Linked DNA regions of Homo sapiens: regions 1, 3 and 4 are each reported to be linked to region 2. The links are microRNA targets in miRTarBase. Many come from high-throughput screens and were not tested one by one. Region 2 holds a microRNA gene; each other region holds the end of a gene's coding sequence.

What was found. Region 2 holds the annotated microRNA hsa-miR-146a-5p (UGAGAACUGAAUUCCAUGGGUU, at 2,406-2,427, shown strand). A microRNA usually pairs through its seed, bases 2 to 8, with sites in the 3' UTR of a target mRNA and lowers its output. Matches are read on the target gene's strand: a 7mer-m8 pairs with bases 2 to 8, a 7mer-A1 pairs with bases 2 to 7 and ends in A, and an 8mer does both.
Region 1: miRTarBase lists COPS8 as a target of hsa-miR-146a-5p. Seed matches in the 3' UTR shown: 8mer at 5,729-5,736 and 8mer at 3,645-3,652.
Region 3: miRTarBase lists SPP1 as a target of hsa-miR-146a-5p. The part of its 3' UTR that is shown has no 7-base or 8-base seed match.
Region 4: miRTarBase lists DECR1 as a target of hsa-miR-146a-5p. Seed matches in the 3' UTR shown: 7mer-A1 at 4,831-4,837.

What each region holds. Positions count from the first base shown.
Region 1 is chr2:237,096,548-237,103,674 of GRCh38, reverse strand. COPS8 (COP9 signalosome subunit 8) reads right to left here. Exons shown (of 8, transcript NM_006710.5): 7 at 6,806-6,853; 8 at 3,201-6,012. The coding sequence ends at 5,933. Among named protein-coding and RNA genes, the nearest start is that of COPS8, 14 kb to the right of the region's middle.
Region 2 is chr5:160,482,967-160,490,093 of GRCh38, forward strand. It overlaps MIR146A (microRNA 146a), which reads left to right and starts at 2,386; the gene lies at 2,386-2,484. It overlaps MIR3142HG (MIR3142 host gene), which reads left to right. Exons shown (of 2, transcript NR_132748.1): 2 at 2,333-4,460.
Region 3 is chr4:87,982,074-87,989,197 of GRCh38, forward strand. It overlaps SPP1 (secreted phosphoprotein 1), which reads left to right. Exons shown (of 7, transcript NM_001040058.2): 7 at 419-1,338. The coding sequence ends at 823. Among named protein-coding and RNA genes, the nearest start is that of SPP1, 9.9 kb to the left of the region's middle.
Region 4 is chr8:90,050,909-90,058,035 of GRCh38, reverse strand. DECR1 (2,4-dienoyl-CoA reductase 1) reads right to left here. Exons shown (of 10, transcript NM_001359.2): 9 at 6,297-6,359; 10 at 4,403-6,198. The coding sequence ends at 6,139. Among named protein-coding and RNA genes, the nearest start is that of CALB1, 28 kb to the left of the region's middle.

The DNA.
Region 1 (7,127 bases), not on the chromosome of region 2:
AGTATACTACATAATTTCTTTCTTTGAGAGATGGTCTTACTCTGTTATCCAGGCTGGAGTGCAGCGGCATAATCATGGCCCACTGCAGCTTTGACCTCCCAAGCTCAAGCGATCCGCCTGCCTCAGCCTCTCAAGTAGCAAGGACCACAGACATGCACCACCATGCCCAGCTGACTTTTTAAAATTATACTTTTGTAGAGACAGGGGTCTATGTTGCCCAGGATGGTCTTGAATTCCTGGGCTCGAGCGATCTTCCTGCCTCAGCCTCACAAAGTGCTGGGATTACAGGTGTGAGCCACTATGCCCAGACAACTACATAATTCCTAAGCAGTTAGAGATTTCCTAGTAATCTCTATGGCTTTATTGATTTCTAGCTTAATCCCACTGTTTTCAGAGAATGCACTCATTTTGATTTCTACTCTTTGTAATGTATTAGGGCTTTATGGTCCTTTATGTGTTCAATTTTGGTAAATGGTTTATACAGCATAAAATGAAATTATATTTTGTCATTGTTGGTTAGTGTTTTATGTATCCCAATTAGATCAAGTCTGTCACCTTTGCTATGTTCTTTGTGATATTGTCTGTTCATGCCATCAGCTAATGAGAGGTGTATTATGTCTTCCAGTATGATTATAGATGACTCTTTTCTCCTTTTAGTTCGGTAAACTTCCACTTGATTATATTTTGAATATAAAATTAGAATTGCTACATATTCCTGTTGCCTTTTGGACTGATCTCTGTAGAATAACGGACATCCAAAAATGTCTATATTTGAATCCGTAGAATCTCAGGTTATATGGGAAAAGGAAATTAAGATAGCAGACAGAACTAGATTGCTAATCAGCTCACCTCAAAATAGACTGAGTATCCTGAGTTTCCAGGTGGGCCCAATATAATTACAAGGGTCCTTCAAAGTGGAAAAAAGGAGGCAGAAGAGAGAACCAGAGATCGAGCAGTGTGAAAATAACTCTACCCAATGTTGCTGGCTTTGAAGGTGGAGAAAGAGGGGCATGAGCCAAGAAATGCGGGCGGCCTCTAGAAGCTGGAAAGGGCAAGGTAACAGCTTGTCCCCTAGAGCCTACAGAAAAATATGCAGCCCTATTGACATAAGCCCAGTGAGACCCATTTCAGATTTGTGGACTGCAGAACTGTAAGATAATACATCTGTGTTGTTTTAAGCCATTAAGTTTGCAGTAATTTGTTACAGAAGGAAACTATATGCAATCTTTTTCATTAAAAATTACTTTCTATCTCTAATAATGCTTCTTGCCTTGAGGTCTACTTTGCCTAATACAATCACCCTTCGATATTCACAGGGGATATACTTGGCTTCAAGACTGCCAAGTATACAAAATCTGTAGATCAGAGTCCTTTATATAACATAGTATTTGCAAATAACCTATACACATTCTCTCGTATACTTTAGATTTAATACCTAATACAATGCAATGTATAATTGTTATGCTGTATTTTTTTAGAAAAATTTCAAATATTTTTGAGCCACAGTTGATTGAATCACAGATGTAGAACCCACAGATATGGAGGGCCAACTCTTACTATCAAAGGTGCACCAACTTTCTTTTGGTTAGTATTTGCAATGGTATATCTTTTTCCAACTTTTAAATGTAAGAACACAGAAATATTAAAAGAGGATCTTTTGTATATAGCAGTTAGGATTTTATTTTTCTTTCAACATGTTAAAAATGCCATTTCACTGTCTGGCTTTACCACTACTTCTTTGAAGATAATGTCCCCCCGGGTCCTCCCTCTGTGCTTTTAATATATTCTCTTTGTCTCTGGTTTTCAGTAGTTTTACTACTGTTGTCTGGGTGTGGTTTTCTTTGCATTTATCCTCTGTGGGGGTTTTCTGAGCTTTTTGAATCTGTGGATTGATTTCTTTCATCACTTTCAGAAAATTCTGGGCTGGTACTTCTATTTTTCCACTCTATATTCTCGCTCTTCCTTGGATTCCAATTAGATAAATGGTAGATCGCTATGCTGTGTACCACATGTCTCCAACACAATTGCCAGTTAAGTTCCACTGTTTCATTTCTGTACTTCAGCTTAATATTTTATATTGACCTGTCTTCCAGGAGCAGTTTTACTAATATTCTACTTCTGGTTTATATTTATAAGCAAACACCTTCCCCCACCCAACAACCTTGTTTAATGGAGCGCTGACATAGCAAAACTCCAGGAAAACGGAACTGTTTCTCAAAGGTTTTTGACTTGCTTTTTGGTCTCCTACCCTAGGCAGCTTAAAAGTTCACCAAATGTTTTGAAGGGTAAACAGTGTGGTTTAGCCCTCTCAAGTCTCCATTGTTATCACCCCAGCCCTTTCAAAGTGCCCAAATTCCACAGGTTGTTAGGTTATTCAGCAGCAGGCCCCTCACCAGGCAAAGCTTGAATCTTGCTGTGCCCTGTGGAATCAGCAAACACCTGCCACCGACCCTGCAAAGAGCTGCTGCAGATGACCTCATTGCAGTACTCTCAAATCTTAGCTCCACATTCCTCATTGATTTAGGGGCTGATGCCTCTCAAGGGATAAATGTGGGTATTCACCTATTAGTTATTGACACAATTCTGAGTTGGCCTCAAGGTACTTCAACCCAGGAACAGACATTTTCATACTTACTACCACCCCCTGACTTTTTGTCATTTATTTTTCAAGCAAACTCACTAATCCTGTTAAATTTCCCACATTCTGGAACTGGCTGTTTCTTAGTGGGATGTTTAACTTGTTCCATTAATTCTCACATTTTATGTAAAGTAGCAGATCTAAACCTTTAAATATATATATATGTACATGTATATATGTATATATTTATATACTATATATATGCATATACGTATTATATATATATATATATATATATACACATATATATATATACTTATATATATAAAATTAAATTCAGGTGCTTTCAGTCTGATTCATGTGTTACACACTTCCCTTTGATTTGACTAGGTCCCCGATCCCCGCCCCAAGGCAGAATAGCATAGGTATGTAAAGATATGTAGACAGATCACTTCTATTGATCTCCGGGAACAAGAGACAGGGAACCAGGAAAAGTAAAACAAGGAATGAGGAAAAAACAATTGAAGGCTGCATTAGAGAGCTTATGACCATGGGACACCACAGCTCAATTTTTTGGGGGTTCTTTTTGAGGATCTAGGTATAGAACACATTGGAAATAGTCTGCCCTGAGACAAGGAAGAGAGTGTTTATTCACCATGTCATGTTCACAACTGCTGATGGGCTGCCCAATCAGGTTTGTGTGGGCATCCTGATAGTAGTGCCAGGGTAAGTCCCAGAGCAAATTTTAGAGATATCCAATGGATCTGAAACAGGGTGCTGTCAGGCTACACTTGTACACAGATGGCTGGCTCAGAAATAGCCAGAGCACAAAGACAGGCTGATGGATGTACTGGACATATTTCATGCTCAATCTCAATTTCTTACCCTGTGGTCTCAACAGCATTGATATATATTTCCATGATCCCTTCTTTGTTTCATTAAGGGCTGCAAGTACCGTTTTTCTAACTTTTATCTTTATTCGGTGGAATTTTCCAGCATGAGCTTTTTGACTACCCTACAGGTTCGATTTTGTTGCTTTAGAGATTGGCAGCATATCAATTTGTCCTGAGAACTGATAATAAAGGGAAGTGAAATCAAGCACTTACCCTGCCTTTCTTGTACAGTGATGAGGTTATTAAGAGTTAAAAACAGACACATATACAAATATTTCATGCTCAAACTGTCTCATTTTTACATGGCCTGTAGAAATCCCTTCAAGTTGGCTTGTATAACCCTTTGACAGAATCCCAAGTCTTTAAGAGCCTCCTTGAATCCTGGACATCTTGTACCAGATATGAACTTGTACACTTACTGCCCTGGAACTATTAGCTGTTTTGCAAATAAGTTCTGATTCCTTTTAATTGCAAATGAAAATGAAAGAACACCATCTGGGTACTAGTGGTGCTCATTGTTACTGAACTGTAATTACTCTAGACCTTTTCATGTAGACAGGAGTGGGAAATATTTACTGTTTACAAAGAAAAATAAAGCATATAATGAGGTTTCCATGTCAAATTTAAGATTACTGGGGTCTAATGTTACATGATTATTAATTTAATCTATACTTTTAATAATAAAAAAGATATCAAGATTTTGTGAAATTAATCATGAAAAACCACATTCATTAGTCTAAGATTTTTTTCTGTCCTTAGTGTATATCCCACTGACAATGTAAAATTGAAATATTGTGTTTGATCACTTGAGATTATTTTTTCTCTATGTAGTAGTTCACTGTCCTCTCCTTCCTCTTTAGGGAACTATTATATTCATTTTGTATATATCCCCCAATTGCTTAGTTTTGAAATATAAGGAAATATGTACATATATATAATTGTAATCATTCTCCTTTTGTTACCCTCAAAATAACCATATAAACTACATGTGCTTTCTATGTTCTCACTCTGGAGATCATTCCAGTTTAGTATAGAGATCTTCACTCCTTTTACACCTGCGTAGTCTACACTGCTGTTTATTCAAACAATCCCCTATTAATGAATATTTGGATTGACTCTAATCTGCTTTTAAAAAATAACCATGGATACAATTTGTACTTAATACCTGGAAGTTAAAAAAACTGGCACTGTCATTCTCTTGATCACTCTCCTGATCCTCTGACTTCTTGAATTCCCATTTCCTCAACTGTAAAACAAGGAATTTTAATATGACTTACCTATCCGGGTTAAATAAAATTGCAATTCAAAAAGTATTCCCATATATGTTAAGAAAAACTGAAATAGCCACTAAAATGCATTCAAAATAAATAAATTATATAATTATCACTACACAGATTCACCATACAACTCATTTCTACTTAAGAGATTCATATAGACACAATGACAAAATAGATTGTGTCCACAGAAAGATCGAGAGTGAAATTTCCAGAAACTATCTTAGATGAAATAATTGAAGAATTCAGTTAAATATTTATTGAACAAATGCAGAGTAAATGAACTAAGGGCTGTTATAACCTTAAGTTACAACAAACAACTTCAAATATTCAGAGGGCTGTCACACAGAGAATGAAAGACTTGCTCAGTATTTCTCCAAAGGGCAGAACTTGAGCCAAGCGATAAATATAAGCAACCAATGGGCTGCAGGATAGTTGTACAAAGTGTATCATGTATCTTCATAGCTTCTTTGCCCATATAATGCATTCCACACTTAAGTTTCTCCTTCTAAAAGGCGACAGCACAAGTTAATATGTCTCATAAATGTCTTAAATAAGTTGCATTTTCATGGCAAGCCCTCCACTGCCAGCAATGGATATACTCACACTATTGGAAAAAATCTAAAGTTAACAAACTGGTTTAGTATGGAAATGGTCTATTTGTTCCTCAGCTATGTTTCTGTATCTTACATTAGTGGCTCTCAGGAGGTGGGGGGTGAAAAGAGAGCATGTTCTCCAAAGAGGGTGAATCATAATCCCCAGTGATTCAGATACTGTGCCTGGGGACAATCTTTCTTCAAGTCCAAATGAATCATTATAATTATCAACCAATGGTACATATAAGAGTACGGCATGTGCTGGGACAGAGAAAAGACAGTTGACAAACACTATTCTACATGAAACAGGAAATCTTATTTTATGAGTCACTAGAAAACTAACTGTAATACTGACAGGCTCCATCCAGATTATTAAATACTACAAAATGAGAACTGTTTCAACAACTATTCAGCATAACGTTTATGGACAAAATGTATATAGTATATCTTATATTCTATATGTATTTTATCACATAGTAAGGAATGCTGAGGTGCTTAAGCCATCCAATAAATTGAAAATACAAACTTTACATTTCTACGTTTGTCAGTATACAGGATTCTGAAGATGAATCTTGAACTCAGAGTGATAAATCAGTTTTCAAGGAAAGCCACATAATCCGTCAGTCTGGCTAACTGCTGTTCATTGGGTATTGGGGGAACTGGAGCAGGCTCTGTATGTTAAAGAAACAAACACACTTCATGTTACATACCACAGTAACAAAGCTTTGGCCCCAACACCTACCTCCCCTAATGCCTTCAATTTTTAACAGTAAGTTAACTTTCTTAGATTTGTCCTGGTTTTAGACAAAATCTTACATCATAGAGGCTTGGACATTTTTGAAAAGCAAGCCAAGAAGTTGCAACTTTTATGAGTATGGTTTTACCTAACTGCTAGTAAAGGCATGTCTCATGTTGTTGTTACTGAAGTATTCTATGTAAAGGTTAAAGACACTTTTATCATGCAACATGTCTTTTAAAAGATCACAGCTCTTCTTGAAAACATCCTTACCCATGCAACATTAAATTCAAGAAATAGAGTGCTTCCCATGCCCCAGACATCACTGAAGAATATTAAATTGTCAACAAACCAAAAAAAAAAAAAAAAAAAAGAAAACCCACAAAGAACCTCAAGGAATTTACATTCCAACATTTAAATTACTACACGTCAGCCTGGGGACGCCTTCTGAATAACAGTACTGGTGAACAGCTCTGGCAGGCCTCCCTGACATGAGAATAAGAAGGCTCTGCAGCTGGCCCAGAGGAGGGCACCGCCTCAAGGCAAGCTCTGGGGGAGCCCAGTTTCACTCTTGTAACCAGATGTATTACTACGCATTTATGAAATTTAACCTCTGTTTACAAGGTAAGAAATAGATACACACACTCACACACACATATACATATATACTACAAAAAAGAAATTAGGAACAATGAGACATTAAAAAATGTGCATATGAAAATACATACCTGATAAGGGAATAAACTTGTTAAAGGAAACATCCAGGGCCCCTGCAACTAAATTCAAAAAAAAAATGTACAGCTCAATTTACAGAAGTCATTGTAAAGATCTTTCATAGAACATGCTATTTTCAGCACAACATGCATTTAACGGCCATTTATTTCTCAAACAGGGATAACAACTGTGCTCCATTATAATTCTTTATTATATTACTCTTCCCCCACTATCTCACTTGACTGGGATCATGTCTTCTCACTCTTTGTAACTCAAAGGGCTGAGCACATTGAGAATCCTTTACTGTATGTTCAGCAATGTCTAAACATAGGCATT
Region 2 (7,127 bases):
CAATGCATATCTGATTGCTTCTTCTGCCCTATTATTTCACTAAGCCAGACTAAGGAATAAGTGACTATTCCTCTACCCTCCTCTCACATGTAAATTGTGTATTCAGTAAAAGGCTAACCAGAGACAAAAAAATGCAACAGTTTGTCTTGTATCTACCTATGATCTGGAAGCCCCCACCCCTGCTTCTAGTTGTCCCAGCTCTCCAGACTGAACCAATGTACATCTTACATATACTGATTGATGTCTCATGTTTCCCTATAATGTATAAAACCAAGCTGTGCCCCGACCACCTTGGGCACAATGTTGTCAGGACCTTCTGAGGCTGTGTGACAGGCATGTTCTTAACCTTGGCAAAATAAACTTCCTAAATGGATTCAGGTCTGTCTCAGATACTTTTGGGTTCACACATCCATGAGAAATGCAAACATATGTCCATACAAAACTTGTACATGGGTATTCATTCATAGAAGCATCAAATAGGCAAAAGGTAGCAACAACCCAAATGCCCATCAGCTGATGAATGGATAAATGAAATGTGGTAGATCCTAACGATGGAATATTATTCATCCATAGGAAGGATGTACTGATACGCATTAAAACATGGATATATCCTGAAAGCTAAGTGAAAGAAGCCAGTCACAAAAGGCCGCTGATTATATGATTTCATTTATATAAGATGTCCAGCATATATATAGACAGAACGTAGATCAGTGATTCCCCAGGGGTGAGGGAGGGGAATGGAGATTGACTGTTAATGGTTATGGGATCTATTTTGGGGATGATGAAAATGTTCTGGAATTGATTATGATGGTTGTACAACTCTGCAAAATACTAAAAACCAATGCATTTTTTACTTTAAATAGGTAAATTTTCTGGTGTGTGAGCTATATAGCTATAGCTCAATAAGGCTATTATATACTTATTTTATTTTATTATTATTTTTTAGAGACAGAGTCTCGCTTTGTCACCCAGCCTGGAGTGCAGTTGTGCAATCTTAGCTCACTGCAACCTCTGCCTCCTGGGTTCAAGTGATTCTTCTGCCTCAGCCTCCCAAGTAGCTGGGACTACAGGTGTGCGCCACCATGCCTGGCGAATTTTTGTATTTTTGTTAGAGACGGGGTTTCACCATGTTAGCCAAGTGAAACTTGAACTCCTGACCTCAGGTGATCTGCCTGCCTCAGCCTCCCAAAGTTCCGAGATTACAGGTGTGAGTCACCACATCTCGCCTATATACATATTTAAAAAACACTAGCATGGTCTCTATGCTTATGGAAAACAGTCTTGTTGGAGAGATAATTTTAATCAAATAATTATACAAAATTATCTAACAATTACAAATTACGGTGAAGGAAAGAATCCCATATTATGAAAGAGACTAGCTGGAGGCTGATGGTGAGGGAGTGGTAGGTAAACATTCAAGTGCTCTTACAGAGATCCCCAAGTAACAGTGGCTTAAATAAGGTAAATGTTCCATTCTTGCTGATCTATCAGTGCAGGTGTAAGCAGTCTAGGGTGTATAAGGAAGCCTCACACTTTTGGGGCTCTTCTGGCATGCTGCTCTGCTGTTCCCTGGGGGGCTGCACTCATTTGCATGGTCCACAGTGGCTCTCTACCATGTCTACAGTCCAAGCCTGAGAAGAGGGAGGGAAACAGTAAAAAACTCTCCACTCCTGCTCATATCCAGCACTTTGTCACACCAGGTGAGGAAACAAAGTCAGATGTCCATGTGTTCAGATACCACTTAAGGGTTCTATTAGTATAGAAGGAGGAGAGAATATATATTGGGCAAACAATCAGCAATCTCTGCCATAGATGGCCTCTCTGAGGAAGTGACATTGAAAGCAAGAACATCAGGATAAGTTGATGTTAAAGAGAGGAACGAGTTTTCCAGGCCAGAGGGATGGCATATGGAAGGGTCATGAGGCAGGAAAGGCCAGCTACCATGTTTAATGATGCTTAATGATGTGTGTGTCTACCATACACATCCCCTACAGATTAGTTTTTGTTTTGACAGGGTCTCTCTCTGTGGCCCAGACTGGAGTGCAGTGGTGCAATCATAGCTCACTGCAACCTCCAATTCCCAGGCTCAAGCGATCCTCCCACCACAGGCCATCATGCATGGCTCATTTTTTATTTTTAGTAGAGACAAATTCTCCATGTTGCCCAGGCTAGTCCTGAACTCCTGGGCTCAAGAGATCCACCCACATCAGCCTTCCAGACTGCTGGCCTGGTCTCCTCCAGATGTTTATAACTCATGAGTGCCAGGACTAGACCTGGTACTAGGAAGCAGCTGCATTGGATTTACCAGGCTTTTCACTCTTGTATTTTACAGGGCTGGGACAGGCCTGGACTGCAAGGAGGGGTCTTTGCACCATCTCTGAAAAGCCGATGTGTATCCTCAGCTTTGAGAACTGAATTCCATGGGTTGTGTCAGTGTCAGACCTCTGAAATTCAGTTCTTCAGCTGGGATATCTCTGTCATCGTGGGCTTGAGGACCTGGAGAGAGTAGATCCTGAAGAACTTTTTCAGTCTGCTGAAGAGCTTGGAAGACTGGAGACAGAAGGCAGAGTCTCAGGCTCTGAAGGTATAAGGAGTGTGAGTTCCTGTGAGAAACACTCATTTGATTGTGAAAAGACTTGAATTCTATGCTAAGCAGGGTTCCAAGTAGCTAAATGAATGATCTCAGCAAGTCTCTCTTGCTGCTGCTGCTACTCGTTTACATTTATTGATTACTTACGATGATTCAGGTACTGTTGTAAGTGCTTTACATGCTGTTATACGAGACTCTTGGGAGAAATCACTTTAATGAAGCTTGAGACACATGGCATTGCCATGCAATGATTTTTCCCCCCTCTTCACGGGATCAGAGGGAACTAATAGAATGTGACAATGATTCTTTAGCAGGGACTGCTGAGGCTTCTGGTTCCTTTTTAAGATCTGCAGTGAAAGAAGATGAGAAACATGGATATGCCCTTCTTTTGGTCCCCCTCTTCCTTTATTTGATCTCTACTTCCTTCTATAAATATATTAGGGCTACATTGTCCCTTTGTATTTCAAACAAGGCAAAAAGAGGTTGTAATTACACTTTACTGCAATCCTCAGTTTCTCCAGGGAACAGGAATGCAAAGGCTTTGAAGGCCTCTCTATTTGCTGACATGGTCAGCTGGGTGCCATGGGCCAAGTCCTTCTGTTGCCCTCCTCTGTCACCAAGTAAGCTAGGTCCTTTCTGAGGCTCAGGTTTGCTGTGATGATGATCACTTTTAGGCAGAAGGTTAGAGGCCTCATGAGTGCTATATGGACTTTATTAGGCTTTAGATTTGATGGGGAATAAGGGATGTGATTTGTCTTTTGGGAACTCATCTTTGATTCATCATTGTCTCTTGGTATCTTGGAATTTCCATGTCATTACAGTCTACAGAATGAAAGAGTAACCTGTCCCAGAGGAGAGGCAGGTGAAAGACTCCACAGCATGCTCATTCTCATTCTGTCTTCTCAGTGACACCGAGGTTTACTGAGTGCCCACTATGTGCCAAGCACTGTGCTCAGGGCTTTCTTTGTATGCATGATCTCAGTGAATCTCACCAAGCCTCATCTGGAAAACGGGGACAAATTAACAACAGGATGGCAAATTGAAAAACACGTAACCATGTTCTACAGATGGAAAGGGGTGCTTGGTTATTATGAAGGCCCCCTCGCAAGCGTGTGGGACATGGGTGTGTTCTCTGGGTTGTACTGATCAGATCAAGGACCTCCCCCACCCTTCTCACACTCTGCCCACTTCCGCCCTTTGCTTATCAGACCCTTAGCCAGTGACTCATTCCAGAACCAGAACCTTGGTGAAATCTCAACCGACACCAGAGATCGGTGTCTTCAGTCCTAGACTGATGGAGAAAATCCAGAATATATACTAGAAGCTCCAAATGCTCTGGGTTTCAGCTCCTCTGTGCTGTGGACACTGACTTTGGCTCAGAACTCCGATTTAGTACAAAAGGCTCATTTTTATTTCAGGGGCACTCTTCCTAAAGCAAACCTAATAAATGAAATATGGAATTCACAGATACACACACACATTAAAAAATTAACCTAGTGTATCTGTGAGGAGTAGGCAGAAATTCACTGTATAAAAGAATGCTTCATTTCATAGAGAATTTGTGTTAAGATTCCATTAGATAGTACATTTCTCAAAGATTTTTGAGGTTGTATTTGCTTTACCAAAACTTGGTTTATGTAAGTGGAAAAAGCATGTTGCAAAATAACTTGGTGTCTATGATTCAGTTTATGTAAAATAATAAATGTATGTAGGAATACGTGTGTTGAAAGATGTACATCAATTTGCTAACAATGGTTATCTCTGACGTGGTGGGATTTGAGATGTGTTTTTCTTTTTGGTTGTATTTTTCTCTATTGTTTGACTTAACACAGAACATGTTTGGTTACAACAATAAAGTTATTGAAGACAATATAACACCCAATTGTGATGAGTCCAGACAGTACTCATGCTGTGCATTTATTAGACAGTATGCCATAGAGGTGGGTCATGGAGGAGTGGAGAGAGAGCCCTGATTTGTTGTCCCATGAAGAAGATAGGCACAGGGTAATATGTAGTGTGATTCTTTTTTTTTTTGCACGAGGAGAAGTGTGTGTGTATCCGTGTAAGTGTATGGATATCCAGTGGGTAGTGGGTGTTAAGATTGCAAGTGATTTTTTTCCCCTCTCCCTTAATCATGCTTTTCTGCCTAAATAAAAAAAGAACTCTCTCCAAAAATCCATCCATGTGTGCCAGTGGTTTTTAAATGTGTTTCTTGGAGCAGCAGCATCAGTATCACCTGTGACTTTTTTTTTTTTTTTTTTGAGTCACTCTGTCACCCAGGCTGGAGTGCAGTGGCATGATCTTGGCTCACTGCAACCTCCGCCTCCTGGGTTCAAGCAATTCTCTTGCCTCAGCCTCCCAAGTAGCTGGGATTACAGGCGCCTGCTACCATGCCTGGGTAATTTTTATATTTTTAGTAGAGACGGGATTTCACCATGTTGGCCAAGCTGGTCTTAAACTCCTGACTGCAGGTGATTCGCCCACCTTGGCCTCCCAAAGTGTTGGGATTACAGGCATGAGCCACCACGCTTGGCCTGGGAATGACTTTTGGATTAGCTAACCAACCTGTGAACTTTTTAGAAATGTAAATTTTCAGGCCCCACTCAAGACCTCCTGAATAGAAAACTCTAGGGGTAGGGCCCAGCAATTTCTGTTTTACCAACCCTTTGGCTGACTTTTATGCACACTAAAGTTTTAGTACTGATAGGGTCAATCAAGGGACATCTGCATTCCCCTGGAACTGAAATATAGCTGACATTGACATGAAAGATGCTGGCCCACTCCTACAAGTATGCATGCAAGTATTCCGCAAAACTTATTTCTGAGAGATGAACAGCAGGACCCCAAAACTTCAAGATGGTTACAAGTGATATTTCCACCGGTGAATAGTAGATTTCTAGGTTTTTAATGTGCAAACTTTAGGTGCATAAAACCGCTTGAAGAAGTTGTCAATTAAGGCAGGTCATGCCCCTGACCCACAGACTAGGCATTTCCAAAGTATCTGTCATTTTAACCATCACTCACTGAATGTCATCAAGGAGGTCCTAGGACGACACTTAGAGCAACTATTCCAGGCTTTTTCAAATGCTGTTTTCCCCCTCCGTACTATTATGTTTCTTCTTCCCAATTCATCCTTTCTCTTCCTGTTGTGATTGATGGGGTCTCAGAAGCAGATTAGCCATCCTTTCGGCTCTGTGCTTGGGAGAGAATAGCTCACATGCTGCTAGAGAGGTGCCTTGGGAGTAATAATAATGATAATGGAAGTATTGATTTGCCATCCTCTGATAACAAAGGAAGGTCATGATTTATCAGCTCACATTAATGGGATGAGGTGGAAAGTTGGACACACTACCTCACAGTCTGCCTTTCCCTTGTGCTAGGTTGCTGGGATTCACTGATTTAGGGACACAGTGGTTTCCTAAGTCCTGCCAGCAGTCAAACCTTTGTTAGTTAAAATGGAAATTTCTTTTTTTCATATTTTCTCACATCTAGACTCTTGCCCTCTTTTCTAATAATATTTCAGAGAGGCAGCTCCCAGTTTGGGTGTCCAGGTGGTCAGAGAGTCTGGAAAAATGCTCTGGGGGCAGGAAACCAGGGTACAAGCCATCTTGTCTAGTTCCTCTTTGCTCTTCTTAGCACTAAGGTGATTTCACAACAGTTTTTTAAGGATGTTCTGCTCCTATCTCCTGCGGAAGCCCTTCCAAGTAGAAGAGTTAATTTTGATTATTCCTGGGAAAGTGCAGAAAATATAATTACAACTTTATTGGATATTTACAAGATACACAAGGTATCTTGTAATAATGAAAGATTTCTCTATTTTCTATATCTGAAAACTGAGGCTCAGGGAGGTTACATAATTTGCTTAAATTTCACACACAACATGTTAAGTGTCACAGCTAGGATGTTAATCAGGACTGCACAGTAAGAACCTATGTTCCTTTCACTAAAGTTTGTACTGTGTTAGGATTTACAATTTGTAAAGCACTTTAACACACATTAGTATATTTGCTGAACACCACATTCTTCCGTGAAATAGCTCTTCTTTTTTTTTTTCTCTTTGAGACAGAGTCTTGCTCTGTCACCCAGGCTGCAGTGCAGTGGTGTGGTCTCAGCTCACTGCAACCTCCGCCTCCTGGGTTCAAGCAATTCTCCCTGCCTCAGCCTCCCGAGTAGCTGAGATTACAGGTGCCCACCACCACGCCTGGCTAATTTTTGTATTTTTTACTAGACAGGGTTTCGCTATGTTGGCCAGGCTGGTCTCGAACTCCTGACCTCAAGTGATCTGGCTGCCTTAGCCTCCCAAAGTCCTGGGATTACAGGCGTGAGCCACTGTGCCTGGCCATAGCTCTTTTCATAATCCTAATTTTAGAGATAGGAAAGTGGAATTTTCAAAAGATTTTGCAACGTATCTGTGCCCCGTGCCATATAGCTGGTAACTGGTGACGTGGAGCCTCAAAACCAAAATCCCTATAGCAAAAAGATCATTTTTACTTAAAAAATGTATACAAATATACATGAACTTAGAAGGAAGGAAAGA
Region 3 (7,124 bases), not on the chromosome of region 2:
AATTATTTAAAAAAAATAATGGTCATGTTTTGAAGTTAAATACCTAAGAGGAATTGTAGTTGCAAATTACACTGAATCCTTAGTCACAGAATCTGGATTTGACATAGCCTTGCCGTTTACTATTCTCTTTACTTTTTAACTAACAATTCACTTCCTCTTTATGTAGGTTTCAATATAATGAAACCTACCTCATAGGTTTCATTACATATGTAAGTGATGTAGTTATTAAACTAAATGAGATGACATATGTGAAAGGCCTTGGTAAAGTACTATACAAAGTAACATGCTAGTATTATTTCAGCCAGATTTAGACAATTTTTAGTATAAGATGACCTAAAAGCTAGAGAGTGGAAAAGGATTACCATATTCCCATCCCTAGCCGTTCATATAATTATTCTTCATTTGTGCCGTGATTCAGTACCCTGATGCTACAGACGAGGACATCACCTCACACATGGAAAGCGAGGAGTTGAATGGTGCATACAAGGCCATCCCCGTTGCCCAGGACCTGAACGCGCCTTCTGATTGGGACAGCCGTGGGAAGGACAGTTATGAAACGAGTCAGCTGGATGACCAGAGTGCTGAAACCCACAGCCACAAGCAGTCCAGATTATATAAGCGGAAAGCCAATGATGAGAGCAATGAGCATTCCGATGTGATTGATAGTCAGGAACTTTCCAAAGTCAGCCGTGAATTCCACAGCCATGAATTTCACAGCCATGAAGATATGCTGGTTGTAGACCCCAAAAGTAAGGAAGAAGATAAACACCTGAAATTTCGTATTTCTCATGAATTAGATAGTGCATCTTCTGAGGTCAATTAAAAGGAGAAAAAATACAATTTCTCACTTTGCATTTAGTCAAAAGAAAAAATGCTTTATAGCAAAATGAAAGAGAACATGAAATGCTTCTTTCTCAGTTTATTGGTTGAATGTGTATCTATTTGAGTCTGGAAATAACTAATGTGTTTGATAATTAGTTTAGTTTGTGGCTTCATGGAAACTCCCTGTAAACTAAAAGCTTCAGGGTTATGTCTATGTTCATTCTATAGAAGAAATGCAAACTATCACTGTATTTTAATATTTGTTATTCTCTCATGAATAGAAATTTATGTAGAAGCAAACAAAATACTTTTACCCACTTAAAAAGAGAATATAACATTTTATGTCACTATAATCTTTTGTTTTTTAAGTTAGTGTATATTTTGTTGTGATTATCTTTTTGTGGTGTGAATAAATCTTTTATCTTGAATGTAATAAGAATTTGGTGGTGTCAATTGCTTATTTGTTTTCCCACGGTTGTCCAGCAATTAATAAAACATAACCTTTTTTACTGCCTATATAATGTTTTTAAAGGTTTATTTTGGTTTCAATTGATACATAATAAGTGTACATATTTATGGGGTACGGTGTGATGTTTTGTTACATATATACATTGTATAATTATCAAAGGGTAATTATCATATCCATCACCTGAAACACTTGTCATTTATTTGTGCTGAGAACATTCAATCCTCTTTTCTAGCTATTTTGAAGTATACAATACATTATTATTGACTATAGCCAAGCTACTTTGCAATAGAATACTAGAATTTATTCCTCCTAGCTAACTGTAACTTTGTACCCATTGACTAACCTCCCCTCATCCACCTTCCCACTCTCCCAGCCGCTGGTAATCACTATTCTACTCTCTACTTCTATGAGGTCAACTTTTCTAGATTCCACATATGAGTGAGATCATGCAGTACTCTTCCTTCTGTGCTTGGCTTATTTAACTTAACATCCTCTAGGTTCGCCTATGTTGTCAAAAATACCAAGAGAAAACATGCACAAACTATACATCTAAGAAGGAATTAAAATCCAGAATACATAAGGAACTCAAACAACTTAATATCAAAAAAAAAAGAAAAAAAAAGACAACTCAAATAATCCAATTTAAAATGGGCACAAATCTGAATAGACATTTCTCAAAAGAAGACATGCAAATGGCCAACAGGTATACAGAAAAATGCTCAACATCACTAATCACCAGGAAAATGCAAATCACAACCACAATGAGATATCATCCCACCCAAGCTAAAATGGCTTTTATCAAAGAGACAAAAAATAACAGACACAGGCCAGGATTCGGGGAAAGAAGGACACTCGTACACTGGTGAGAACTGTAAATTAGTACAGCCACTATGAAAAACTGTATGGAGACTTCTCAAAAAAACAAAAATAGAACTACCATATTATTTAGCAATCCCACTGCTGAGCATATAACCAAAAGAAAGCAAATCAATATGTGGAAGAGATATCTGAACTTCAATGTTTATGGCAGCACTATTCACAATAGCCAAGATGTGCAATAAATGTAAATGTCCCTCATGATGAATAGATAAAGAAAATGTGGTATATACACACAATGGAGTACTATTTGACCATAAAAAGAAATTAAATCCTGTCATTTGCAGCAACATGGATGGAACTGGAGGTCATTATATTAAGTGAAATAAGACAGGCACAAAAAGACAAATATCGCATGTTCTCACCCATATGTGGTAGCTAGAAAAGTGGATCACATAGAGATAGACTGTAAATTGGTGGTTCTACAAGAGGCTGGGGAGGGTGAGGGTAAGGGGCAGATGAAGAAAAGTTGATTAATGGGTACAAATATACAGTTAGGTAGAAGAAATAGGATCTAGCATTTGACAGTACAGTAGGGTAACTATCAATAATTTACTGTATATACATTTGTTAAAAACCCTAAAAGACAAGAATTCAAGTGTTCCCAACATAAAGCAAAGATAAATGTTTGAGGAAATGGATATCTCAGTTATGCTCATTGGATCATTACACACTATATGCACACACAAAAACATCATATGTGCCCCCAAAATACAGACAACTATTGCATATCAATTTTTTAAATAATCAATAAATTTAAAAGGAAACTATAAAGATATTAGATAAATACATGAGTGAGTAACTTCACAGTCTGGGTGTGGAGAAACCTCTTCTAATGATGAGAAGACAATGCCATGCCATAGTCCTTGTAGATATCATTAGTCAGGTGCAGCAGCCCCTTAGGCTCCCAGCATACTTGCTGCAGTGGGCACTTCCTCACACTCACCTGCAGGTGATGGCTGGATTGATGGTGTTGTTCCCACATGCTTGGCAAGGGGCTTGGCACTGTGCTCAAATCCAAGGGCATGACCAAGTTACTCCTGGAATCACTTATTTGAATAGTGGTACTATTTAACAACTATTCCCTGCATCACTTCTCTATTAGTCAGGGTTCATTCAGAAGACAGAAAAGAGACCAGTCATTTGAACAGGGAAAATTTAATTTAAAGAATTATTAACTAGAAAGAGGAGAATAACCAGAGAGAATAAGAGAAATAAGAGAACATTAACAATACCATGGGGCTGAAAGTGCCCATATAAGGAACAACTTGCAAAAGGAGAGGCCCTCTCCTGAGATTCAGACTTCACTGGAAAGGGTACAGTCACAGCCCAAGGGATGGCAGAGAAGTCTGCTGTGTTATCCTGAGTCAGAGCTGGTCCACAGTGGTCCAACTGGTGGGCTCAAGTTGGAAAACAAGAGACTTCCCACAGGGGTTCCAGCAGACTGAGGCCAGCAAAGAAGGAAAACCATGGGGCAGGCCAGCTGAGCAGGAGGCTAGCTGGAGGGTGAGTGCCACAAGGTGCTCTGTGTGCACAGCAGTGTCCCTCCAGTGCCCTCTACTGACAAAGCTTGCCACTGTGCCAGTTGGCAAAGGAAGCACGTTCACAGGGTCCATCTCCAGCAGTATCACAGAGCAGGGCAGAGACAATGGATTTGGAGCAGGGAGGCACAAAACTGACAGGGGAAAAGGCTGATTCCTCCTAGACAACAAGAGCACAAAAATGAGCCTGGGACATTTTTTCATGATAGGATGAAAGCAAGCACGAAAGGACAAAATGGGGTTATATCCAAGGGACCAAAGAGCAGACTTGCAAGGGGCTTCCATTGGCCAAAACTGGCGTAATTTGAGCAATAACAGAATAACGACAGTAACGAATTATAACAAATTGAATTTTTAAAATTCCACTAGTATATAGTGATACTACAAAAGAGCATTAAAGAAGGAAAATTCTTCTTTACAGATGAATGCCAGCTAGTAATAAAACTAGAAGGAATGCTAACATTAAAAAATTATTTCATAACCCACAAGGAAATAATTGAGGAAGTGATCACTAATGAATGTTAAAATTATTGTGCAGAAGATGATTGAGAACATCTCACCTGGTCTCAGAGTATTCACCTGTTCTCAGAATATTACTCCACAATTATTTAATAATTCCAAAAGAAAGAAAGTGCTTTCAACCAGAGAGATTTGCAGTCACCGTCTTTAGCCAGTAATTAATGAGACTTGTAGATACGTACCACCCAGTGTGAGGCAATAAGAAATATGCAACATCATCTAGAAATTTTTGTAAAAAATGTTTACAAAATCAAATGACTAGAAAACAAGCAAATCCAGAATTTGAGCTACTCTATAATAGAACTGGTCTGAGCTTTTTTTTTTTTTTATCTTTTGAGACGGATTTTCGCTCTTTCACCCAGGCTGGCATGAAGTGGCGAGATCTCGGCTCACTGCAACCTCCCCCCGGCCCCGGGTTCAAGTGATTCTCCTGCCTCAGCCTCCCCAGTAGCTGAGATTACAGGCATGAGCCACCGCACCCGGCAGTCTGAACTTTTTAAAAAGCAGAGTTGTTAGATAAAATACAGGATACTGAGTTAAATTTGATTTTCAGATAAATAACAAATTAGCTTTTAGTATGAGCACGGGACATTTTATGCTAAAAGATGATTCATTGTTTATTTGACATTCAGGTTAACTGAGCATCCTTTTCTAAATTTTCTAAATCTGCCAATCCTACAAAACAGACAATTTGATGAGAGAAAAAGGGCAAGAGAGGAGATAGTATTCTAGATTAAAAATATACCAGGTATAAAATAGATTAAAAAATATACCAGGTATAAAAAGTAAAACATGGGCCGGGCGTGGTGGCTCATGCCTGTAATCCCAGCACTTTGGGAGGCTGAGAAGGACAGATCACCTGAGGTTGGGAGTACCCGACCAGCCTGACCAACATGGAGAAACCCCTTCTCTACTAAAAATACAGAATTAGCCAGGTGTGGTGGCACATGCCTGTAATCCCAGCTACTCGGGAGGTTGAGGCAGGAGAATCGCTTGAACCCAGGAGGTGGAGGTTGCGGTGAGCCGAGATTGCACCATTGCACTCCAGCCTGGGCAACAAGAGTGAAACTCCGTCTCAAAAAAAAAAGGTAAAACATGAACCTTGATTGGCTCCTGGATTGAAAAAGACACACAGCCATAAAAAACCTTTTGGGGACAATTGTGGCAATCTGAATATACACAGTATATTAAATGATATTGTGAAATTACTGATAATTTTCTTAGATGTGATCATTGCATTGTACATGAAAGTGAATGTTCTTACTCTTGAGAGAAGTATAATGAAATATTTAGGGATGAAGTGCCATGGTTTTTGTAATTTACTTTCCAGCGGTTCAGAAAATAATGACTGGGAGAGGAAATGTGAAGATGTAGGTTAGAGGTTACAAAGTAGCAGACATGGGGAATAAGCAAGTCTAGAGATCCAGTGTACAACATGAGGACTACTATTAATAAAATTGTACAGTATTTGGGATTTCTGCTAAATGAGTAGATTTTAGCTGCTCTTGCCACACACATAAAAAAGGCTATCTATAGGAGATGATGGGTATGTTAATTTGCTTCACTACAGAAGCCATTTTTCTGTCTATATGTATCCCATAACATTATGTTGTATACCTTAAATATACACAATAAGATTTCTTTTTAGCTTTTTGGAAAGTGGCGACTGAGTCTGTGGGTGCTGCCCCAGGAGTGGGAGCTATCATACACCCTCCTCTTCCAATCCATGTTGCAACCAATAAAGGCTGTTTCTACAGTGTTAAAAAAAAATTCAACGGTAGGCTGTCATCAGGGGAAAAAAATTAGTAAGAAGTCAGAAAAAAGGTATACAGAAAGAGAAGAAACTATGGGGAAAAGCATATTATTCTTTTAACTTTTCTCAAGGTTTAAAAATGTTCCAAAAATTGGAAGTAGGAGGATAGAGCAGGGAGAACAGAAAAATGTACAATGAATAATGTCCATCAGATAGTGTCTCAGACATAGGTATAAAAGTCTCAGAACAATTCCCTCATTATTCACCTCACAAGATCATAAAAAAGGCATTCATAAATTTTTATAAATAAAAAAAGTGTCAAGACCAATTTCCCATCACCTATGCGTTTTTCAATAACCCTGTAGATACTCCCTTTGATGCAGGTCTTCTTTAGTCAAACAATCTTTTCATCCCTTGCCCATGGCAATGATATGGCCTAACTGTGAATCAAAGTATTTGTCCTGGTTCCTGGCATAGCCTTTTCTCCTCTGCCACCCCCAGTTTTTCAAGTTTCTAGTAACAATTGCTCCAAATCCTGTTTGATTGCAATTATAGCATAATGGCCAAGTTTCCATGGGATTCAGCTTTGTCAGTGGAGCAAGGCAGAGGCAAAGAACTATAATGAGCAATTCTGATATTGACCTGTACTGAGCATGCAAAAAGGACCTTAAAAACCTATTTGTAGACATTAAAGAAAAGATTGTTTTCTACTTCACAATTTCATAAGGTAGTTTTTTATACTTCTTCAATTTAGTAGCTCACTTACTGAAGCATAATTATATTCTCCGCTCAAAACATCCAGAAAGCATGCATTCTCTAAAACATTGCAAGTTGAACTTCAACGTTATTTCAATGCAGACTCTTTGACTTATCTATTTTATTCTAAATACCACAGTGACTCGTGTTTGACTAATCCAATGTGATTATTTTAATCCAGAGTGTAGATGGATATTGCATATTAGATCCAAATTTCTGATAACATTCCCCCAAAGATGCAAACACGTAAGTCCCAAAGACCTATGTAGCTGAATCTGCTCTTCTAGTCACATTGAAAGAGCATAGATCAGCAACCAGAAAGAGAAAAGAGCGGTGGCCTCTGAGGCTCCACCAAAAAAATGTGGGGCAGACCTAAGGGGAAATCTAA
Region 4 (7,127 bases), not on the chromosome of region 2:
ATATCCAAAGGAATAACAGGGACATACAGAATTTTCCTATATTTAATTCATAGAAAAATAACTGTTCACTACCAAGTATGCGCCAAAACTCTACCAGGTTTGGCATTCTTACAGTAACAGCATGAGCAAAGAAAGAAAAACAACAACAACAACAACAAATTATGATAGGGAAATTTCTGAAGAGACTTCCTAGAGGGCTGTCAGGAATAACTGACATGAATCTAGCATCAGGACTATCATGGTAGACTTTAATTCCTGAGCACTATCAGACAAAGAAATTCCTACACCTCAGCTACATCAGTCACACTTACCTATAAATGACAGGTCTGCTTCCTTGAGCAGAGAAGAGGGTGAAGAATGAAAAAAATGAATCTAGATAGGCAAATATAAAATTACAGGCACAATGCCTATCTCATACCACAAACAAAATTCATTCCAAGTTTATTATCAACATAAATGTGAAACATATGTAAACAACACAGGAGAATAACTTCAATACCTCATGCATGAAAATACTTCTTCACATCCAATTATGAAGAAACAAATTGAAAAATTGGGCTCCATTAAAATTAAGAATTTCTGTTCAGAAAATGACTACAAACTTTAAAAAAAAACTATTAAGAGAGTGAAAAGTCAAATTTCAGAGTGGGAGAAGATATTTGCAACACATATACTTGACAAAGGCACATATCCAAAATATATTAAGATTACTCCTAGAAACCAACATTTAAAAATATAACCCAATAGAAAAATGTATAAGAAAGTTGAGGCCGGGCGCGGTGGCTCACGCCTGTAATCCCAGCACTTTGGGAGGCCGAGGCGGGCGGATCACGAGGTCAGGAGATCGAGACCATCCCGGCTAAAACGGTGAAACCCCGTCTCTACTAAAAATACAAAAAAATTAGCCGGGCGTAGTGGCGGGCGCCTGTCGTCCCAGCTACTTGGGAGGCTGAGGCAGGAGAATGGCGTGAACCCGGGAGGCGGAGCTTGCAGTGAGCCGAGATCCCGCCACTGCACTCCAGCCTGGGCGACAGAGCGAGACTCCGTCTCAAAAAAAAAAAAAAAAAAAAAAAAAAAAAAAGAAAGTTGAACAAATATTTCACTAGAGGATACCCAAATGATGTCCAATAACATATGCAAATTAATCAACTTTATTAGTAATCAGGAGAAATGCAAATGGCCAGATGCAGTGGCTCATGCCTGTAATCCCAGCATTTTGAGAGGCTGAGGCAGGAGGATCACTTGAGCCCAGGAGTTTGAGACCAGCCTGGCAACATGGCGAAAGGCTGTCTCTACAAAAAGTTAGCTAGGCATGGTAGCATGCACCTGTAGTCCCAGCTACTAGGGAGGCTCAGGTGGGAGAATCACCCAAGCCCAGGAAGTCAAAGCTGTAGTGAATGGAGATCGTGTCACTGCACTCCAGCCTAAGCAACAGGAGTGAGACCCTCTCTCAAAAAAAAAAAAAAAAAAAAAAAGCAAATTAAAACAAATGAGATGCCACCACACACTCACAGAATGACTCAAAGTAAAGAGAATTTCAATGCTCACTACTGGTGAGGATGCAGCACAGTGTAAGTTCCCAAACAGCTTGGTGGGATGTTAAATTGTGAATAGTCTTGGAAGCCATTTGACAGTATCTACTAAATTTGAACACAAGCATACCCTAAAACCCAGCAATTTCACTTCTAGGTATTACCAATCTAACAGAGAAAGGTGTATATATTTTCGCCAAAAGAATAGAAGGTTCACGGCAGCTTTATGTTTGGCATAGCCTCAAACTAGAAACAATCCAAATGTCCACTAAGAGCAGAGCTAACAAATAAATGGTGGTATATTCATATATACCTTATATTCTATGGAATATAACAATGAGAATGCATAAGCAATTATTACACAGAAAGAAAGCCAAAAAACAGAAGAATACATATTGTGTGATTCTATTTATATAAATCTCAAAACAGCTTAACGATGGGGTTAGAAGTCAAGACAGTGGTTAGTTGTGAGAAGGAGGAAAGGAATCGCGATGGTGGGCAGAAGGGAGGCTTCTGGGTTCCTGGTAATGTTCTGTTTCTTGACCTGGAGAATGGTTACCTGAGTGCATTTGTATTGTAATAATTCATGATTTGTGCATTTTTAGAAGTCATACTTCAACTAACAAGCTAAAAAAATTGATGGGCTTTCTCCTCTTCTAGGCTTTTGTAATGTCTAACTGTTACCTCCTAAAAACCCTGTTATTGGCTCTTGATTTGAGTTATGATCCCAAGAAATATCTAACTGGGTGAGAGACATGAGCTTGACTTACTGTGTGACCTAGGGCAAGTCACATAACTTTCTAGGTCTGCAGTTTCCTCAACTGTAAAATAAAAACATTGAGAATTTGCATTTTCTAAGGCTTTTCTAGCTCTAAAATTCTATTATTCAAAGTCATTAAATTCTTATTGTTTTAGTTTCCACAAGAACAATAAGGAAACAATGGCTGTCACTCTATACCTGAAACATTTCCTGGAGGTGGTTTCACATGTTAATGGTAAGATGAGTGATATTGTTACCAATAATCTTTAATTTACTGAGTATTAACTCTTCCACTAGTACAATAGAAGCAGGACTCTTACAGAAGGTATTGAGTGACAAAGTAATAATTCTTAAGGTGAACATTGATGTGGTTACAGCCCACATGTGGTCTGTCATAGAATACAGTGATTACCCATAAACAATGTTTGTTTCTCTTTCAGACTCAGGAAAAAATATCTGTTAGTCAATATCTCCATGATCTCTCTTCTCTGATCCTCTCTGCCATGCTGCAAGCTTTGCTTTCTCATCAACCATTTGTAATAACACATAATAATGATGTAATAGATGACTAAGAAACTATTAAAAGAACTATTTTTGTCTTTAACAGAGGAAAAAATTGCATACAAACTCATACAAACCAAAAATTTTACAATACCCCATTAAGATACCAACAGGTAAAAAAGACAAACAGGAAATTCAAAAGTGTAGAAAAGTATTCAATCTCACTAATAATAAAATAAGTTTTTAACGGTACTATCATTCGTTACGTGTAAAATTGGTGAATAGTTTTAATTGTTGGCAGCTATTTGTTGAAACGGGCAGTGTCACACATTACTCAGGGGGGTTTAAACTCACACAAATCTTTGGAATAACAATTGGATATGTATATCAAAAAAACTTTAAAAGCTTCATAACTTTGATTAATAATACCACTTCTAGAAATGAGGAAAAAATTCCAAATTCTAAAAATGTGTTATACATAAAAACGTTCATAGTTTTATTTATAATACTGAAAAATAAAAGTAACCTGTGATCTCACTTATGTATGGCATCAAATAAAGTTGAACTCATGGAAGTAGAAAGTAGAATGATGATTGGCCGGGCACGGTGGCTCACGCCTGTAATCCCAGCACTTTGGGAGGCCTAGGCAGGCGGATCACCTGAGGTCAGGAGTTCGAGACCAGCCTGGCTAACATGGTGAAACCTTGTTTCTACTAAAACTACGAAAAATTAGCCGGGCATGGTGACGTGCACCTATAATCCCAGCTACTCAGGAGGCTGAGGCAGGAGAATCGCTTGAACCCGGGAGGTGGAGGCTGCGGTGAGCCAAGATCATGCCACTGCACTCCAGTTTGGGCAACAAGAGTGAGACACCATATCAAAAAAAAAAAAAAAAGAAAAGAAAAGAAAGTAGACCGATGGTTTACTAGAGGTTGAGGGAGTGGGAAGAAGGGGGTTTCTGATCAAAGCATACAAAATTTCAGATAGAAAGAACAGGTTTTAAGATCTACTGCAGGGTGACTATAGTCAATAATAATGTACTGTATATTTAAAAATAACTAATAAAAGTAAATTTCAAATGTCTCTCCATAAAGGCCAATAGGTAAGAGAGGTGATAGATATGTTAATTAGCTTGATTTAATCATTCCACATTGTATACACATATCAAAACATCACACTGTACCCCTTAAATGTACAGGGCACCCCATAAATGAATTCAATTATGATTTGCCAATCAAAAGTAATATTAATAATAATTTTAAAATGCATTGGCAAGGGAGGCATTAGCATTCTTGAAAAACATTAAAAAACAAAAAATTTTCAACAGCCAGGCTCAGTGGCTCATGCCTGTAACCCCAGCACTTTGGGAGGCCAACGCAGGAGGATCACTTGAGATCTGAAGTTCAAGACCAGACTGATAAAGATAGCAAGACATTGTCTCTATAAAAATTTAAAAAGATAAAAACAATAAATATAAATAACCCTATTCCCAATAAATTAAATAATGATACATCAAAACAATAGAACACTAAAAATAATATTTATCTAAAAAAGGACCTGATTTATCATGTAATCTGAATTTTTTTTTTAAAAAAGGTTGAGACAACACTGGAAAAAAATAATATTTATTAAGTTATATAAATGTAAACATTTAGTATAAATTTAACCAGAAAGAGAAATATGGCTATACTGGTGGAATCAGTGGAGGGAAAGAGTGTGTCTTTGTGTGTTTGGTGAGAGGTGGGTGGGAAGGTGGGTTTGGAAATGGAGTGAGTGATAAACCATCATTATTGGTGTGTGAACACAATATCAACACAATAGTGTGATAGTGAATAAGTCTCACGAGATCTGATGGTTTTATAAATGGGAGTTCCCCTGCACAAGCTCTCTTGGGTGCCACCACGTAAGACATGACTTTGCTCCTCACTCACCTTCTGCCATGATTGTGAGGCCTCCCTAGCCATGCTGAACTATGAGTCAATGAAACCTCTTTCTTTTATAAATTACCCAGTTTGGGTTATGTCTTTATTAGCAGCATGAGAACAGACTAATACACAGGATTAGTACTAAAGGTAAAATGGAGACTAGGTACCTGTCTGCGTTTTATTTTGAGAGTATTGTATTGCAAGCATGTGGAGAAAAAGTGCAACAGCCTAAAAAAAAGCCCAGTGAAAGTCAGTATAATTGGAAATGTTGGGCCACTTATTCCAAACCTATAACATCCCCTATATATACACAATTAAATGTAATAAATGTAATTTATGTACACAATTAACTGTCAATGTTAATTGGGGTTTCCATGGGCTTGTGGCAGATTTATTCAGATGAGGTAAGATGGAAGCTGGTTTCCTCTTGTGTCAACTTGGGCAATGGGGATAGTCAGTCTAGTGAACATGTTGTAACTGACTCCTGGGAAAGCAAAATGGACATTTTAAAAATATAGGCTCAAAAGTATAGCTCTGTAGACTTGAGACTTTGGATTCATTATTATTTGATTTTCAGGATGACAAATTAGTCAAACCAAAGATGAAATTTAATCAAATGATATACAAAAATATTTTATAGGCTTTCTTTACCTCTTTTACCCAGAGAAATCTATTCTTCTTTTACAGCTGGGATGGCATGCTATCTCTTAGGCATCACATTCTCCAAACTCTGGAGACAGAATGAATTACTTCCTCCTCTACACTTAAATACTGCTGGAATAATACTTATCACAATGTATCATAAATAATTATTTATAAGTTTGACTATCTTGCTAGATAATGAATTTAAAAAGGGCAACGGCTATAGCTTATTCAGTACTAAATAAAATGCCTGGCTACAAATAGGTCCTAGTAAAAATTAAAGGTTTGAGTTAATACTGAGTTACCCAAAGAAGATAATTCACAAGTCCAGTGAAAAGAAAGTATACTGGAAAGGCAAAGTCTATTATATTTAGTGTGTATCCTCTAATTTCTTTCTTTTAGGCCCTATTAATATAGGTATAGTATATTATGTAACTCAAATGCTACCGCCACCATTGAGTTTCTCCTGATTTTCCAAGTCACAAAGATCTGTTCTCTCTGCACTTCTAAGTACTTTTTACCTCTATCAATAGGTAAAGAGGAGCCTTTACCTACTCTCCCCATGCCTCCTTTTTTTTTTTTTAATGTTTTGAAGGACTATATTTCATTTTATTTATCTTTGAATATACAATGGCTATCACTGGCCTGGCACATAATACATATTCAATGAATGTTTGTTAATTAAGAATTTATTAGACTTGAAATAGTCAAAAGATGAGAGATAATTTGTTTCATTTCTATTCCCTTTTCTGTAACCAAGATGAAGGCCAAAGTGGTCTTAGGAACCTTTTGTCTTCCTGATGAGTTCTTCTATGGTGTCCCACTGCTCCTTGGTGACCTAACACAAAAAAGATGTCAATTTAATGTCCTTTTTACATGTTTTTAAAGCTTAGTATCCTAGCTGCTGATATTACATTATACACACAAAAGCATTACCTTTCTCAGGTCGTTGAATTCCCCTGAAATAAGTACTTCCTCTCCACCGTCAAATTTAATGACCTGGAAAAAACAAATTTTTAAACTCTGAAACTAACTCCTTTTAAAAAGTTTCTGAACCACTAGCCATTTTCCCATACTAATTGGATGGAATATCTCTTTGGCACTTTAAATCAAGCCCAAATTTTAAAGATAAAACTCATGATTAAACCTAAATTGATTTACTCAGTTTATAATTCTATTTCTAACATCTCCACAATTTCAAATATCTACCCAATATTGAAGATCATCTTAAAGGTATATCTACCAAGGTAACCTGCATCTATTAATTTATCACTTGATATGGTTTGGCTGTGTCCCCAAAAAAATCTTATCTTGAATTGTAATCCTCAATCTCTCTCTCTCTCGTCTCCCTTTTTTCTCTCTCTCCCTCTCTTTATCTCTATTGCCTGCCACCATGTTAAGTTATGACTCTTCCCCTTCAGCCATAATTGTAAGTTTCCTGAGCCCTCCTCAGACATGCAGAAGAGTGAATCAATTAAACCTCTTTTCTTTTTTTTTTTTTAATTATACTTGAAGTTCTAGGGTGAATGTGCACAATGTGCAGGTTTGTTACATATGTATACATGTGCCATGTTGGTGTGCTGCACGCATTAACTCGTCATTTACATTAGGTATATCTGCTAATACTATCCCTCCCCGCTCCTCCCACCCCACGACGGGCCCCCATGTGTGATGTTCACCACCCTGTGTCCAAGTGTTTTCATTGTTCAATTCCCACTTATGAGTGAGAACATGCGGTGTTTGGTTTTCTGTCTTTGTGAGAGTTTG